Linked DNA regions of Homo sapiens: region 2 is linked to region 1. The links come from fine-mapping of genetic effects on gene expression. Tissue or cell type: whole blood. Region 1 holds a variant in brackets; the other region holds the start of a gene. All regions are shown on one strand. Distances are from middle to middle.

What was found. PIP is the estimated chance that this variant, and not a neighbour inherited with it, causes the effect.
Region 2: it holds the start of ZNF282, and the variant in region 1 is fine-mapped to the expression of ZNF282 in whole blood (TOPMed, PIP 0.98).

The regions. Positions count from the first base shown.
Region 1 is chr7:149,595,479-149,603,581 of GRCh38, reverse strand. It overlaps TRC-GCA20-1 (tRNA-Cys (anticodon GCA) 20-1), which reads right to left and starts at 5,627; the gene lies at 5,556-5,627. It also overlaps the pseudogene ZNF767P. RefSeq lists an enhancer at 2,509-2,668 and silencers at 2,777-2,977, 3,417-3,617. The variant G/A (reference allele first, on the strand shown) is at 3,341.
Region 2 is chr7:149,191,250-149,199,352 of GRCh38, reverse strand. It overlaps ZNF282 (zinc finger protein 282), which reads right to left and starts at 3,807. Exons shown (of 8, transcript NM_003575.4): 1 at 3,599-3,807; 2 at 601-1,020. The coding sequence starts at 3,763. RefSeq lists an enhancer at 2,740-2,789 and silencers at 3,230-3,589, 3,710-4,031, 3,850-4,139.

The DNA.
Region 1 (8,103 bases):
ACCTGTGTGTTGCCACTTCACAATGGAAGCTCCTAGGAGCTGCCAGGTCTACCTCAGTGAAAACTCATTGACCTTGTGCATAGCAAGAGGCAGTCCCCGCTCCTCAGATAACCCCCGTGCCTGTGTCTTCCCTGCCTTGAGTCCTTAGTTATGGGCAGCAGGCTGGAAAAGCACTGCCAGCAGCCACTAGAATGGCCTTGAGAGTCATCCTCCAGTAACTGTTTATGGTGGGCACATACAAGAGAAACTTTGTGTGACTGAGGTGTCTGTTCTAAAACACTTAATGACAGAGTTGGGCCTGGCTCTCCTGGTCCAGTGTTCCAACACAACTACAATCTAGGACAGAAGGTGATTCTTCCAGCTTTCACTTCTTCAATTAATATTAATGGAGAATGATAGAGAAGGAGCGACTCCAAGAAATAGTGAGAAGGCGGTAGCTGAGTAGATTTTGGAATCCCCGAAAGCCTTAAGAGGGCCAGCGTTAACATAGTTTCAAGGACCAGAATATGTTGCTAGACAACAACCCCACTTGATTCATTTTTGTCTTTAAGTAACAGGGTGTTTTCCTGTCATCCAGAGTGGAGTGCAGTGAAACAATTATAGCTCACTTCAGCTTCCCAAGTAGGTGGGACCACAGGTGTGTACCATCATACCCAGCTAATGTATTTTATTTTTTGTAGAGGTGAAGTCTCACTATGTTGCCCAGGCTGGTCTTAAACTCCTGGTCTCAAGCGATCCTCCTGCCTTGACCTCCCAAAGTGCTGGGATGAGAGACATGAGCCACTGTGTCCAGCCTCCCACGTGACCTTCCTGATGGCAGGCAGAACCCTGTCCTTTCTAGAAGGAAGACTTGGAGGAACACTTGGGTTAACTCCTTTTCACCTCCTCAGCTGTGCCAAGGCCCCGCCTCTGCTCTTGTCATAGGAGCTGGTAAACTGTCTCTTCTTCAAACTGCCTTTCTTTCCTGCTGGAATTTTCTCCTTTACCCACAGGCCTTTGCCTTGTAGCCCTGGGCACCTTCTCAGAAGGCAGCCAGCAGCCAGCCACTCCTCTCCGCTCCTGGCCTGACAGCCTCGGGAAACACTGACTTCCGCAGTGATTTATATGATAACGTTAAAATCCTCTGGGTTTCCCTTTTCGGCAGTAGGGTGGACTGCCAAGGAAGATGCGGAGGATTGATGAGCCTGCAAGAGCACAGAACTCCCCACTGGCAGGGCCTGGGCAGCAGCCTGGCAGGCAGATCACCTGAGGTCGGGAGTTTGAGACCGGCCCGAGCAACATGGAGAAACCCCATCTCTACTGAAAATACAAAATTAGCCGGGCCTGGTGACTCTTGCCTGTAATCCCAGCTACTCGGGAGGCTGAGGCAGGAGAATTGCTTAAACCCGTGAGGCGGAGGTTGCGGTGAGCCAAGATCGCGCCATCACACTCCAGCCTGGGCAACAAGAGCGAAGTCCAGGAAGTCGCAGAAGACCCTGGACATCGCTGGATTCTGGAGGCCCGGATGTCAGTAGTACAATGATGAATGGGCATTTCCAAGAAGAAGTCTTAGGCCCCACCCATGGTGAGGAATCAGGAAGGAGACAGTCTTGCACTAAGGCAGGATACGAGAAGGGCTAAGCAGTGGCCGGGCGCAGTGGCTCATTCCTGTAATCCCAGCACTTTGGGTGGCTGAGGTGGGCAGATCACCAGGTCAGGAGTTGGAGACCAGCCTGGCCAATGTGGTGAAACCCCGTCTCTACTAAAAATACAAAAATTAGCCGGGTGTGGTGGCGGGCACCTATAATCTCAGCTACTCGGGAGGCTGAGGCAGGAGAATCGCTTAAAATAGGAACGTGGAGGTTGCAGTGAGTCCAGATCGCGCAGCTGCTCTCCAGCCTGGGCAACAAATCGAGATTCCATCTCAAAAAAAAAAAAAAAAGAGCGTATGTTTCATGGATTGTTGTGTAGATTGAATGAGTTAATCTGCGTAAAGCACATAAAACAGGACTGGCAGGTAGTAAATTCTATATACCGTTTGCTGAACAGATAAAAAGCTCACAGAGAAATCAGCTAACATTCATGAGAGCCAATAAACACAAGTAAGAGAATAAGAACCCACATGGCAGGAGAAGGTATCTGTTGCACATAAGTGATGAAGGGTTTATTCCCAAAATATATAAAGTATTGCACAAGACAATTAAAAAATGGACAACTTAGTAGAAAAATGAAGAAGAGACTTGAGCAGTCACTTCACAGAAGAGGACATCCAAGCGACCAATAAGCCTATGAAAAGATGCTCAAACCTCATGAGTCTAGAAAGGTGCAAATTAGGCCGGGCGCGGTGGCTCACACCTGTAATCCCAGCACTTGGGGAGGCCGAGGCGGCCGGATCACCTGAGGTCGGGAGTTCAAGACCAGCCTGACCAACATGGAGAAACCCCATCTCTACTAAAAATACAAAATTAGCCAGGCTTGGTGGCGCATGCCTGTAATCCCAGCCACTCAGGAAGCTGAGGTAGGAGCATTGCTTGAACCCGGGAAGCGGAGGTTGTGGCGAGCCAAGATCGTGCCACTGTACTCCAGCCTGGGCAACGAGAGCGAAACTCCATCTCAAAACGAAAAGAAAAGAAAGGTGCAAGTTAAACCGCAGTGAACTATTGCTAGAATTGTTGCTAGGTTGGTTAAAATGAAAGAGACTGATGTTACTCAGTGATGGTACGTGGAGCCATAGTAACTCTCATCCCCTGCTAGTGGTAGTGTGATTTGCTGGAACCACTTTAGAAAACCGTCCGACCTTACTGGCTAAAGCCAAAAATAGAAACACCCACTTCCTCAACAATTGTATTCCTAGATACGGAGAGTAGAGTGTGTCTGTGTACATGCAAGATTCTTGTTCATAGCAGCATTCCTTTCAGTCTTCTATATCTTGATTTAGGAGGTGGGTACATTTGTGTGTATGTGTACAAATTAATTGAGCTGTACGTTAAAGATTTCTATACCTTATTGTTAGTTATATTTCAGTTAAAAGTAAATAAAAAGGAAGATGTTGATACTTTTTTTCATTTCTGGAATGTCTTAGTTGATTCATTTAAAAAATATATTTGGTGATTTTTTTAGAGTCTTTTGCTCCTCAATTCAGTTTCCATTTCCCTTTAAGAGCATATTTGTCTTTCTTTCATTTTTCAATTTAAAGCTTTCACGACCCCACCGTTAAATAATATTTCTTTTTATATTTCAGGTAGACAGCTAGTGACATATTAAGAAGGTAGAATATTTATCCTCGCTTCCAAGAATTTTTTTTGAATCACGAAGGTGTGTTGGATTTGATTGGATGTTTTTCTTCATCTATTTGAATGAC[G/A]TGATTTTTCTCCTTTAATCTGTTGTCTTAGTTTAGATTTCTTTAGAAAGAGACTCTGAAACTAAAATGTAAGAGCAGGTAGTTTATTTGGAAGATAAGTTCAGGAAACACCAGTAGGGAGTGGGAAGTCAGACAGAGAAAGCAAAGAAGCCAATAAAAGGTGGTGTCAATCTAAATAACAGGCAGAATCTCTCTGAAAAGTAATGTAACTTAATTAGGGAACGAGCATTGGCAGTGGTTATACAGGTGTCAGAGTAAACTATGTTTGAGGAAGTTGTGGTAAGGGAAAGTTTTGTGTTTTTTTTTGTTTGGTTGGTTTTTTTTTTTTTTTTTTTTTTTTTGCTTGGGGGACGGAGTTTTGCTCTTGTTGCCCTGGCTGGAGTGCAATGGCAAGATCTCGGCTTACTGCAACCTCTGCCTCCTGGGTTCAAGCGATTCTCCTGCCTCAAGAAGCAGGGTAAAAGACACTAGTGGAAAACGCTGACTCTGCCTCACCACACCCCTTGAGAGCCTCAGTGAGTGGAGTTTGTGAACATTCGTAGAGGCAGCAGGATGGAAATCTCTGGAGGCCTTAGCATTGGACGCACATTGCCATGGTGTTTGACATTCCTGAGGACAGAAGGAGAGGGCGGTGAGGAAAATAAGATTGTTAGCCTGGTTCTAAAAGTGTCCACTGTTTGTGGAGTCCCATATGTCAGAGAAGACATGAATGGTGAGAGGAGAGAGTGGTGGAAGGAGATGGTTTTGAGAGAGGAGAAGCGTGGAGGGATAGTGGAGGAGCTGTTGTTTGGGGGCAACGTGGAGAATGAGACTGAGAAGGTGACCCTACCCTCTGTGTGGCCTATGCCAGTCTAAGTTGTATGTGGATAAAGTTATCTACCAACATTGAACATAAAGAATGGAGAACCTGGATCTGAGCGAGGGACCTCTTGCTCTACAGTCAAAAGCTCTAGCCCAGAGCTTTACCCCCATGGCACACTGAGGTTACCTAGTTAGTACCTTTTATCAGTATGGGAACACTCAGCTTTGTAAAATTAAATGATGGCTTCCCTCCAGGACTGACTTTCTGGAAGCTGCCAGACCTGATTCACAGCTAGACACCTTCCCTCAGCTCTGCAGTTCACCAGGTCTGTCTCTGGGTGGAGCCATGAGCAGGAGAAAAGGATGGAGGCTGTCTGCAGAACTCAGAGCCATTTCCCATTGTTTTTTGGGGTTAACCCAAGAGCTGGCCACTGGTGTCCAAAACAGTCCACAGACTAACCCAAGCTCCCAGCCCGGCTCCCTTTTTCCTGCAGTGAAGACAGAGTGGACAAATATGATAACTGATGATAAACTGCCTAGCATGATATTAGCACATAGTAGGGCATAGTAAGCATTAAAAAAATAACACCAGTTCCTGTTCTTGTCTTTTGGCAAACTCCAAACCAGTATCTGTAATGTCTCCTAAATGACCTCCTTAGACAAAGGACCTCACTGGTTCTTCATTGCAGCACACAGGACTCCCTGTGGCCCACAGAACAAAGTTGGAATTCCCAATCATCTCATACGAACAGACTCTTGAGTCTAATCCCCCACCTCCAAGCCTTGGGCCACAGTCACAGAGTGGGCTGTAATTCACGTGCAGCCGCAGAGCTACAGGAGTTTGGTCGTAGGGGCAGCACTGCAGAGCCTCTGTCTCCCTTGTTAGAGTAGCTGAGCCAGGCTTTTGGCCTATAAGGTTGAAGCAAGGGTGTGAGTGAGCCCTGCGTGGGAGCAATTCTCCAGGGGAAACATCTGCCCTCCATGGGAATGCTGTGTGCTGTGATGTGTCTCCCCAGGTCTGGCCACCACTCCAGTGCACCAAACTGCTGCTGTGGGAAGGAGCCAGGAGAGTGATAACTTGGGGTACCATTCCCCATCTGTTTCTGGGGAGCCTGCTGCAGTACTACTCTCTGGTCTGCCCTGGAAAAACCCAGAAGCATACTGCATCACAGCTTGAGAAATTACATCTATAGGGGGAGCAGGGAGCTAGATACCAAGAATACCAAGAATATGAGGGATACCCGTGGAACTGGTGCTGGGAGAAGTTATCCAGCCAGGTTGCAGCTGGGTAGGCCTGAGCTGTAGCTTCCAGTTCCAGGGAAAATCATAGGTGGAATGGATGAAAAGAAACTGGAATGTGACCAACAGCTTCTGTGAAGAATATAACAGCTTGTATGAATAGAAAAAGTGCAGTAGGGGGCACCCAGATTTGAACTGGGGACCTCTTGATCTGCAGTCAAATGCTCTACCCCTGAGCTATACGCCCTGCTTGTCATAAGTGTCTAATAACCACTTTTCATGTTGGTAATCGCACCCAGGAGTCCTACAGCACATTGAAAGTTCCTGCTTACTTTTAGAGAGTAAGACCAGCAACTGATTTTACCACAAACTCACCCCAGAAAAGTCCATCCCCAGTTGCCAAACCCTGGCCCCTGCTCACATGCCTGCACAATCTCCCCGCTTTCCCTCAGTCCGTGGTGACAGGAGCAGCTGAGAGGAGTGTTTCCGTTTACTGCTGGAACAGCCTTTAGGTCTCCATGTTTGATGTCTTCTTGTTTACACTACAAAATAGCAGTTTGGAGACACAAATTGAGACACATGCAGTACTGACATATATAGATATCTCTCAGTCTGGGATCTTTGCATTAAATCCAGTTCATGAAAGACTTGGTGAAGTTGGGGGAGTTCCTAGGCCCTGACATGGATCAGAGAGTAGTCCTGGGAAGCATCATGGAGACAACATAGCATGAGGACCACACAGCTCCTCCAGGTTTTGGCCAGAAAACTCCGCTGCTAGTGTGGAAAGCTCTACCCTGAACTACACCTCCATTCCCAGTGCATGGCTGTTTTTAACGTTACATATATTTTTATAATTTATCAGAAGTTTGGACTGGTTGGAGCCCACCACAGCGCCACAAAGCCTCCGTAGCCAGACTGCCTTTCTAGATTCCTCCTCTCTGGGCAGGGTATCTCTGAAAGAAAGGCAGTAGCCTCATTCAGGGCCTTGTAGATAAAACTCCCATATCCCTGGGACAGAGCACCTGGGGGAAAGGGGTGGCTGTGGGCACAGCTTCATCAGACTTAAACTTTTCTGCCTGCCGGCTCTGAAGAGAGCAGTGGATCTCCCAGCACAGTGCTCAAGCTCTGCTAAGGGACAGACTGCCTCCTCAAGTGGGTTCCTGACCCCCGTGCCTCCTGATGGGGAGACACCTCCCAGCAGGGATCAACAGACACCTCATGTAGGAGAGCGCTGGCTGGCATCTGGCGTGTGCCCCTCTGAGACGAAGCTTCCAGAGGAAGGAGCAGTCAGCAGTCTTTGCTGTTCTGCAGCCTCTGCTGGTGATACCCAGGAAAACAGTGTCTGGAGTGGACCACCAGCAAACTCTTAGCAGACCTGCAGAAGAGGGGCCTGACTGTTAGAAGGAAAACTAACAAACAGAAAGCAATAGCATCAAATAAACGAAAAGGACGACCACACAAAAACCCCATCTGAAGGTTACCAACATCAAAGACCAAAGGCATTTCTCTATTTCTCTTTCTTTCCCTTCTTTCACTCCCTCCCTCCTTCCCTTCTTCCTTCTCTTTTTTTTCTTTTGAGACAAGGTGTTGCTCTGTCACGCAGGCTGAAATGCAGTGGCATGATCATAGCTCACTACAGCCTCAAGCCATCCCACCTTAGCCTGCTCTATAGCTGGGACTCCAGGTACATGCCATGACATTTCACAGGACATATCCACAGAAAATTGTGGCATTAGCATGATTTGAGGGTGAGATTTTTGGCCCTCTTATATCAAAAGGCCACCTCTCAGGCACTTGCTCAGACCAGTTGAAGAGTCAGTTGTCTAAACCAGTTTTAGCTGGACAGGAGCTGGCCCAAGTGCCTGAAAAACAACTGAAGTGACCATCACCATGTGACCTACGTAAGTTCTATAAAGCCTCCCATGAAAGTTAAGTTTCTGCATTGAGCATTGAGGCTTTCAGGTACGGTGGCCTTCAGCTTCGTGGAAATAGGGAAATAATAACAACAAAAAGCAAGCAGGGCAGTTGGGCCTGATCAGATTAATCCCTCCATTTGAAGGCAAGCAGGAAACAACCGGCCTTGGGGGCTCAGGGGTTACAAGGCACAAGTGAACCACTTGGAAGTGGCCCTGGATCTTCACTTATTTTTGCATCTGTGACCTTCACCATGAGACTTTGCAGATCTTCCCACTAGAGGTGGAACATGCTTCCCTGCTCTTGAGTTAGGGCTTGCTTCTCTGACTTGATTTGATCAATGAGATGTTAGCACATGTGATGCAAACAGAGGCTTGAAAGCTGCTTGCATAGTTGGGCCTCCCCCTTTGCATTTCTGCTGTCACCACCAGAAGAGTGTCCCCTTGCTAGCTGCTACTCCTCCAGCTGGGATTGTGGAAGGAACACACATGGAGCAAACTTGAGCCCGGCTCAGACAGAAACCAAGCACAGATGGACCCACAGCTTGAAGCAGACCCAGCCTACATCAGCTGATTGGCATCCATGCTGCTGACCTATCAGCACGAGACATGCTTATGGTTTCATACAGCCTAATTTTGGGATGATTTGTTGTGACACATTGTTGTGGAAATAGCTGACTAATACAGCCTTGATTCTTACACCTGCCTCTCCCCCAACCCTCATCCCCTATTCCCATCAGGTACTGAGTAAGGGAATGGGAGGAGATAGTTGAAGGAGTTCAGGTTGTGGCTACAGAGTAGGAAAGTACC
Region 2 (8,103 bases), 400 kb after region 1:
CCGAGCAGCAGATGGAAGAACAAGCTGGCTGCATGTGGACGCCTCTTCTGGGTGACTCCGTTCTCTCAGTGAACTGAAAAGCAGCATTGAGGATCCGGGAGGAAAGCAGGAGAGGGAACGGAGTAAGATACGGAGTGTGCATTCTGAACTTTAAGAAGGGCCCCCCTGAGATAAGTGACTACGACTTGAAAGCAACTCCAGGCAGCCTGGTTTGAGGTGCGACTCCAGCCACATTCCGGTGAGCATATACCAAGACAGCCAATGACACATGATCGCTGGTAGGTGTCAAGTGGGAAAACCAAGGAGTGAAGAGCTGCAAGAACTTGCAGACAACCAGACAACTCAGAGGGGTCTAGGAACAGCGAGAGCAAAGGCTCCCAGACAGAAATGCAGACTGTGGGGAATGAATGGAGTGAGCCTTGCTGGGGTAGAACGTCCAAGACCAGGTTGTTTCAGTGGAGACAGGCTTTAAGAAGACACTGAAATTGGATAACGGGGAGCCAGAGAAGTTTATGAGAAGGGCTGACAAAATGAAATCAAGAATTTTATGCACCTGTGCTGTTCCTCACCTCTATCCCTGCCCCAGGGACCACCACATACCTTGGGGGCCTCCCCCTTGCTGCCCGGGGGCAGCCGCAGGACCCAGAAGTTCCTGTTGCGCAGCAAGTTCTCCAAGTTCTCCAGCCGCCTCTGCAGCAGCCCGTACTCCTGCAGCAGGGTCCCCAGCACGGCCCACTTGCTCTCCATGTGGTTCCCAAATTCCACGGCCGTCTTTTCACAGTCGGCCAGCTTCTTCTCGGCTGTCCCCGTGCGCCCCTCCAGGTTCAGCAGCTGGCTGGCCTGGGCATCCACCTTCCTCTCCACAGCCTGAATGGCAGCCACCACAGTCCAGAGTGAGATCTCTGCTGTGGGCAACTGGGGCTCTCGCATCATGCGGTCGGGGAAGACAGGTGCCCTATCTGGAAAGGGTGGGAACTGAAAAGGCATTGGCCGCCGGGCGTCCATGTCCCATTCTTGAGCCTGTATGCAGAGGGAGAAAGCGACAACCCAGGATGAGACCTTGTGTGAGCCGGGGAAGTCAGCTGGGAACAGGGGTCAACTAATCAGATGCTACATGTCGTCTTTCTTCTGCCAGGCCCCCGTAACTCAGGATACACTAACACCCCCAGCAACAGCTACCCACTCACCCACCCACCCAACTCAACACTCTCCCATCTCCTGCCTAGGTGAGTCAGGCTGGTCACTGGTTCACCCACATTGACCCTTAGCAAGTTAAGGCTGCAACCCCTGCCTAAAATGTCACAGGCCACTTTCTTTGAATAGACCAACTGATTTCTTCAAGGGCTAGCCTTAATGACGAACTTTGTATTTGCCTAGTGTTTTATGTTTCCAAGAACTTTGATGTAAGTTAGCTGACGCTAATCTTCCCAGCAATCTCTCAGCAGGTTAGGGCAAGAATGATGATCTCTGCCTTAAAGATGATGAAACTGAAGCACAGGGAGGCAGCTGGTCACTCCGCAGCGCCTCCCTGCACTGCCAGCTGGGGCAGCTCTAGATGCTGCAGGTAACAAAAAACACATTCCTGGCCAGGTGCAGTGGCTCACACCTTCCCAGCACTTTGGGAGGCCAAGGCAGGCAGCTCACTTGAGGTCAGGAGTTCAAGACCAGCCTGGCCAACATGGCGAAACCCTGTCTCTACTAAAAACACAAAAATTAGCCGGGTGTGGTGGTGGGCTCCTGTAATCCCAGCTACTTGGGAGGCTGAGGCAGGAGAATCGCTTGAACCTGGGAAGCGGAGGTTGCAGTGAGCCGAGATGGTGCCACTGCACTCCAGCCTGGGCAACAGAGCAAGACTCCGTCTCGGAACAAACAAATAAACAACAAAAAAACCCACCACATTCCTACCAGGGCTGCAGTCAAGGAAAAGACCGGAGAGCCCAAGCTAGGGCAGAAAAGCAGCTTCCCCCCATATACAACTACTGTTTCATAAACATTTTCCAAATTGAAAATAGGTTCACTAAAAAAGGTCACTCATTAGAGGTGAAGAGGGGATGTCCCTCACACCCAAGAGGACCAAGAGAAAGAAAAACTCCTCTGGGACCCCTCCTTGCTTCCTGGGGAAGGGGTGCCCCATGGCCTGGGGACTCCCCCTTTTATCTTCCAGCACAGAGCCCTCACCCCAGAAGGGTAAACTAATTGGTGCAATTGAGAGCTGAGACCTATGGCTAAGGGGGGCTGGTTGAGGCTGGTGACAGTTCACTGGTCATCTGGGACCTGGTGTCAGACTCAGGGCTCACTGGACCACATGGGCTGGCAGCCGACTCTCCTTCACACCTGGGACAGGAAGAGGTGTCATTTTCTGTCCTCCCGATGGCTGCAGAAAAGGCCCTCAGGCTAGGAAAAGGGGAGGCCTGCTGCTTGGGGCGATCTGGGCAGACCAGCCCCACTCTCTGACTCAAGAGCAGCCCTGCTCCGGGGCAGACCTGCTCCGGGACACAGCAGAGTGGAGAGCAGGGCCCTAGGATCGCCAGGCCCTGTAATACCAGTAAGAGGTGCTGGTGTTTCCATCAAAAGCACCCATTCCTCCATCACAGAGGCTCCACTCCGCCCTAGCCCACAGAAGGGGACAGAGTCCACAGTAGAAGTTAAGAAAGTCCCGGGGCCCAGTTTAGTTTTCTCGGGTTTGAAGCCCTAACCCTGAAAATGATCAAACACAACACAGCAGCCCCTGGCTCCCTCGTTAGCACCTGGCTGAGAGCCGCGTGGTGAGCAGAGGGGCCCCTGAGCAGCCCAGCCCCAGGGTGGGCCCAGAGAGTCTTCCCTGGGCAAGCTTTCAGGCCTCTCTGAGGATCCACCTCCCCTGGTTTTATACCCAATTCTGGAGCACCGGTTCTGCCCACGGAGATCATCGATGGAGCCTGAAGAAATGCCTGGTGCTACTCTCACCCGTCAGAGACCCTGAGCTCTGGGACCAGGCAAGGGCTCAGGAGTCTTAAAAGCTGCCCAGGCCATTCCAACATGCGGCCAAGTTTGTCAACCGCAGGAAAGACCCCGAAGTCATCTCTCCATGGCCCCCTCCCTGGATCACACCCGGTGCAGGGGGAGAGTGAATTACTCATTACACTTGGTGAAAGGTGGTAATCAAACATTTAAAAAATATCCCCGTCAAATTGGCCACCGTGTAAACACGAACGAGGCATTCACTTCTGCGGCCGGGCGGAAGCACTGCCCGCGAAGCTCTCCGCCGGCCGGGCGCAAAGGGAGCCCCAAGCCGGGGCTCAGCCACAGGGTCAGAGCTCTGCCAGGTCCCGGAAAGGACGGTCCCGGCCCCCGCCCCGCGGGGCCTCCGCACTTGGGCCCGGCGACCGCTGCTCCGCGCCGCGCGGGCCAGGCCTGCCCTTCCGGGCCTGCGTCGGGCCCGCTCCGTCCTGCCCGCCGCGCAGCCCGGCCGTGCCCCGCCCGCCTCGGGCCTCGCCTGGGCGCGGAAGCTGGGAGGGCGCCGCAAGGCTACCGGAGGACGGCGCGGCCCGGTCCCGCGGCCCAGCCCGCGCCCCGCCCCCACGGCAGCGCGGCCATGGCGCCGGCGGGGTTCTCCCACCTGCATGGGCGGCATTCCCTCGGCCATTTCCCCGCGCAGCGCCGGCTCCTGGTGGCAGACCTCCTCCGGGGGCAGAGCCTGGGCCCAGCTCCAGCTCCCGCTGTCCAGCCCCAGGCCCTGGATGCCCAGCTGCTGAGGCTGCGGCCGTGTTGACACAAACTGCATCCTGGGAGTGCTGTTCCCCGCTCGGGTCGGCCAGGGAGAAGAAGAACGTTTTCCAGGCGCCTTCCCCCTCTCCGGGGCCGGACAGCTCCATCTACAGCCCGTAGGAGCAAACAGTCCCCTTCGGCGGCGCTCCCCGCCCCTTGGCAGCCCGCGCGCCAGCCAATGGCCTCGGAGCTCCTGCCCGCCTGCGGGGACCTACCGGGGCCACTCCCGGACTGGGGTCGCCACCGCCCCAAAACTGAGAGGCGGCGGCCTCGCCCAGGGGTCAGGCCCCCTCAATCTGGGATGGCCGACTTTAAAGGCCCAAACTATGCGAGGACCTGGACTGTGGGCTTGATTACTGTTAATTCTGCAAATGTATTGGGCATCCCGGGAGAAAATAGTGCCTGACCCTTGTGAAAATTTTGCAGGAGTAATTCTGTCTTCAGACACTTTCTTCTGGCCTTCTGCCTTCCCTCACTCCTTTGCAGACTTTACCTCCCACTCCCCTTCTTCCCAATCCAGATTTACCTGGACCCATCCCAGAGCTTTTGCACTGTTATGGATGATAGAGAAGTGATTCATGTTAAGGTGTCAAAAGAGGGCTGAGCTCTTTCTCCCAGGTAAGGTGCAGTGCATTTTAACAGTGGCCTCTTCAAACACCTTGAAATTGGGTTGGGCGTGGTGCCTCACACCTGTAATCTCAGCACTCTGAGAGGCTGAAGCAGGAGAACGACTTGAGCCCAGGAGTTCGAGACCAGACTGAGCAACATATTGACACCCCATCCCTATAAAAAATAAAAATTAGCCGAGCGCGGTGGCTCACATCTGTAATCCCAGCACATTGGGAGGCTGAGGCAGGCGGATCACCTGAGGTCAGGAGTTCGAGACCAGCCTGGCCAACATGGTGAAACCCCGTCTCTACTAAAAATACAAAAAGATTAGCCGGGCGTGGTGGCGTGGGCCTATAATCCTAGCTACTCGGGAGGCTGAGGCAGGAGAATCGCTTCAACCTCCGAAGCGGAGGTTGCAGTGAGCCAAGATCGCGCCAGTGCGCTCCAGCCTGGGCAACAGAGCGAGACTCCATCTCAAAAAATAATAATAAGGCCGGGCGCCGTGGCTCACGCCTGTAATCCCAGCACTTTGGGAGGCCAAGACGGGCGGATCACGAGGTCAGGAGATCGAGACCATCCTGGCTAACACGGTGAAACCCCGTCTCTACTAAAAATACAAAAAAATTAGCCGGGTGTGGTGGCGGCGCCTGTAGTCCCAGCTACTCGGGAGGCTGAGGCAGGAGAATGGCGTGAACCCGGGAGGCGGAGCTTGCAGTGAGCCGAGATCGCGCCACTGCACTCTAGCCTGGGCAACAGAGCAAGACTCCGTCTCAAAAAAAAATAATAATAATAATAATAAAATAAAAAATAAAAATTACCCGGGCATGATGGCTAATGCCTGTACTCCTAGTTACTCAGGAGGCTAAGGCTGTAGGATTGCTTGAACTCAGGAGTTGGAGGTTGCAGTGAGCTGTGATTGTGCCGTTGTGCTCCAGCTTGGGCGGCATAGCAAAGATCCTGTGTCAAATAAATAAATAAATAAACCTTTAAATCGGGCAGTCATGGTGGCTCACACCTGTAATCCCAACACTTTGGAGGCCAAGGCTGAGGCCAGGAGTTCAAGACCAGCCTGGGTGACACAGCGAGATCCCTTCTCTACAAATAAAACCCTTTAAAGGCAGGTCAGTGTCACTTTGAAACATCAGGCCAGGTCAGAGGAGGAGCCAGGGAGAGGCCAGTATAAGCTGATGAAGATGGAGGAGGGGAAAATTCAGTCATTCCAAATGTATTTATTGAACACCTACTGTGTGCCAGGTACTGTTTAGGAAGAGGGTGAGCTTTGCAGTTGCATACACCTGAGTTTAAATCCCAAAATCACCACTCACTAGCTATGACTTTGAGCAACTTATTTAACTTCTCTGAGCCTCATTCTCTTCATATATAAATGAAGAAAATAATGGCAACTCTATTTTAATGTTGTAAAATTAAATGAGAATTGTGCCTGGCACATAGCGAGCATTCTGCAAAGATAGTTACCCCCAAAAGGTGTTTTTGTAATTATTCTCAAAATAGTATTTACTTTGTTTTCCTAAAGGACCAGTCCCTGTCTTGTTAAGGAAGAGATCTCTGAGGCTCATCACCTTGTGTGGAAGCAGACCTGCTAGTACCTTTAAGTTCCACTGCACTTCATAAAATAAAGGACATTATTGGCCTACGTGAGACATGTGCTTAGAAGGCCATATTCAGAAGAACAGTTACCAAGTACTTTCTCTGCTAGGCACACTTCTAGGATACAGAAATGAGTATTCACAGACTTAAGATTATCCTCAAGGAGCTTATAGGCCAGTAAAGTCCATGCTCCCAGAAGTCAGTGATTTCCTTCCCTGCTTCCTGGCCCTGATTGTAAACATCACGTCCACTTTTATTAGAGGAACCAGGCAAGTTAAGTCTGAAAAGCTCTAGGCAAATTCATTTCCACCAGCGAGCCACATTTCAGAACACGTCTTCTGCACTGTAGATTATCAACTATCTTTTCTCTTTCCTAGAGGTGATAAAGGAAGGACTAGGTTAGTCCCAAACATTTATGCTATCTTTTCTGTATAAAGCCTTTAAAATGACTTCCCTTCCTAAGCACTTAACTAGTTATAACGATGTCCTTTGTTACATAGTAAGACATCGCTGTAGTGTGTCTACTTCACATTTCTCCTTCACAGCGGGTGGATTTTCATGCAGCCATCAACACTATCACCCTTTGTGACCAGAGTAGTTGCTCAGAGCTAGAGGTCCCATTCATTGTTAAGATGATCCCAGTACTTTGGGAAGCCGAGGCGGGCAAATCATGAGGTCAAGAGTTTGAGACCAGCCTGGCCAATATGGTGAAACCCCATCTCTACTAAAAATACAAAACTTAGCCAGGCATGGTGGTGTGCGCCTGTAGTCCCAGCTACTCTGGAGGCTGAGGCAGAAGAGTCGCTTGAGCCCAGGAGGTGGAAGTTGCAGTGAACCGAGATCCTTCCACTGTACTCCAGCCTGGCGACAGAGCAAGACTCGGTCTCAAAAAAAAAAAAAAAGAGATATATGAGCAAAGCTACTCAACTCAAACAATTTAAATGCACAGGCTTCATTGTACTTGCAATATTTTATTTTATTTATTTTTGAGACAGAGTCTCACTCTGTCACCCAGGATGGAATGCAGTGGCTCAATCTCGGCTCACTGCAACCTCCGTCTCCCAAGTTCAAACAATTCTCCTGCCTCAGCCTCCCGAGTAGCTGGGATTACAGGCGCTTGCCACCATGCCCAGCTAATTTTTGTATTTTTAGTAGAGGTGGGGTTTCACCATGTTGGCCAGGCTGGTCTCAAACTCTTGACCTCACATGATCCACCCGCCTTGGCCTCCCCAAGTGCTGGGATTACAAGCATGAGCCACCGCACCTGGCCACTAACATTATTTTATAACCACCAAGCCTAGCAACCACAGGCCATAAAAGGCCGTAGTGGATACCAGCAGGAAGGTAGTGAAGGGAGTGATTAAGGAGAACTTCCCAGAAGGAAAACAAGCAGGGAATGAGGAGGAAGCTGCTGTAGCTGCACAGGCTGTGGGCCCCGTTATAGGTCCTCCCATGATCAACGGACTGATGAGACAGAGAGATCCCCAAGAGTGGGAGAGACCCTGCACTGGGAGAAGTGTTCAGTCATAAGACTGGTTTCCGGAAATCACTGGGTGACTAGGAGACAGTTATCTAACGTACCGAGGAGCAGAATGAGCAACTGGATAAAGTGGATTATAAATGCCATGTATCACGGTTAACACACGTTTCTTGTTAGGGAAGGACCCAGGCCTGGCCCCTCAGTCTCTCAGGTGGGAACTGACTGCTTTTCATCCCCTCCCCTAGGAATTTTATTGTTACTGCTCTGGACAGGATATTTGAAGTGATAGATGCTGAACTAAAGAATACAGGAGAGGCCGGGCGCGGTGGCTCACGCCTGTAATCCCAGCACTTTGGGAGGCCGAGGTGCGCAGATCACGAGGTCAGGAGATCGAGACCATCCTGGCTAACACGGTGAAACCCCATCTCTACTAAAAATGCAAAAAAATTAGCCGGGCGTGGTGGCGGGCGCCTGTAGTCTCAGCTACTCGGGAGGCTGAGGCAGGAGAATGGCGTGAACCCGGGAGGCGGAGCTTGCAGTGAGCCGAGATCGCACCACTGCACTCCAGCCTGGCGACAGAGTGAGACTCCATCTCAAAAAAAAAAAAAAAAAAAAAAAAAAAAAAGGTATACTTCCGTTTGCGGCGCGGCTTCTTTCTT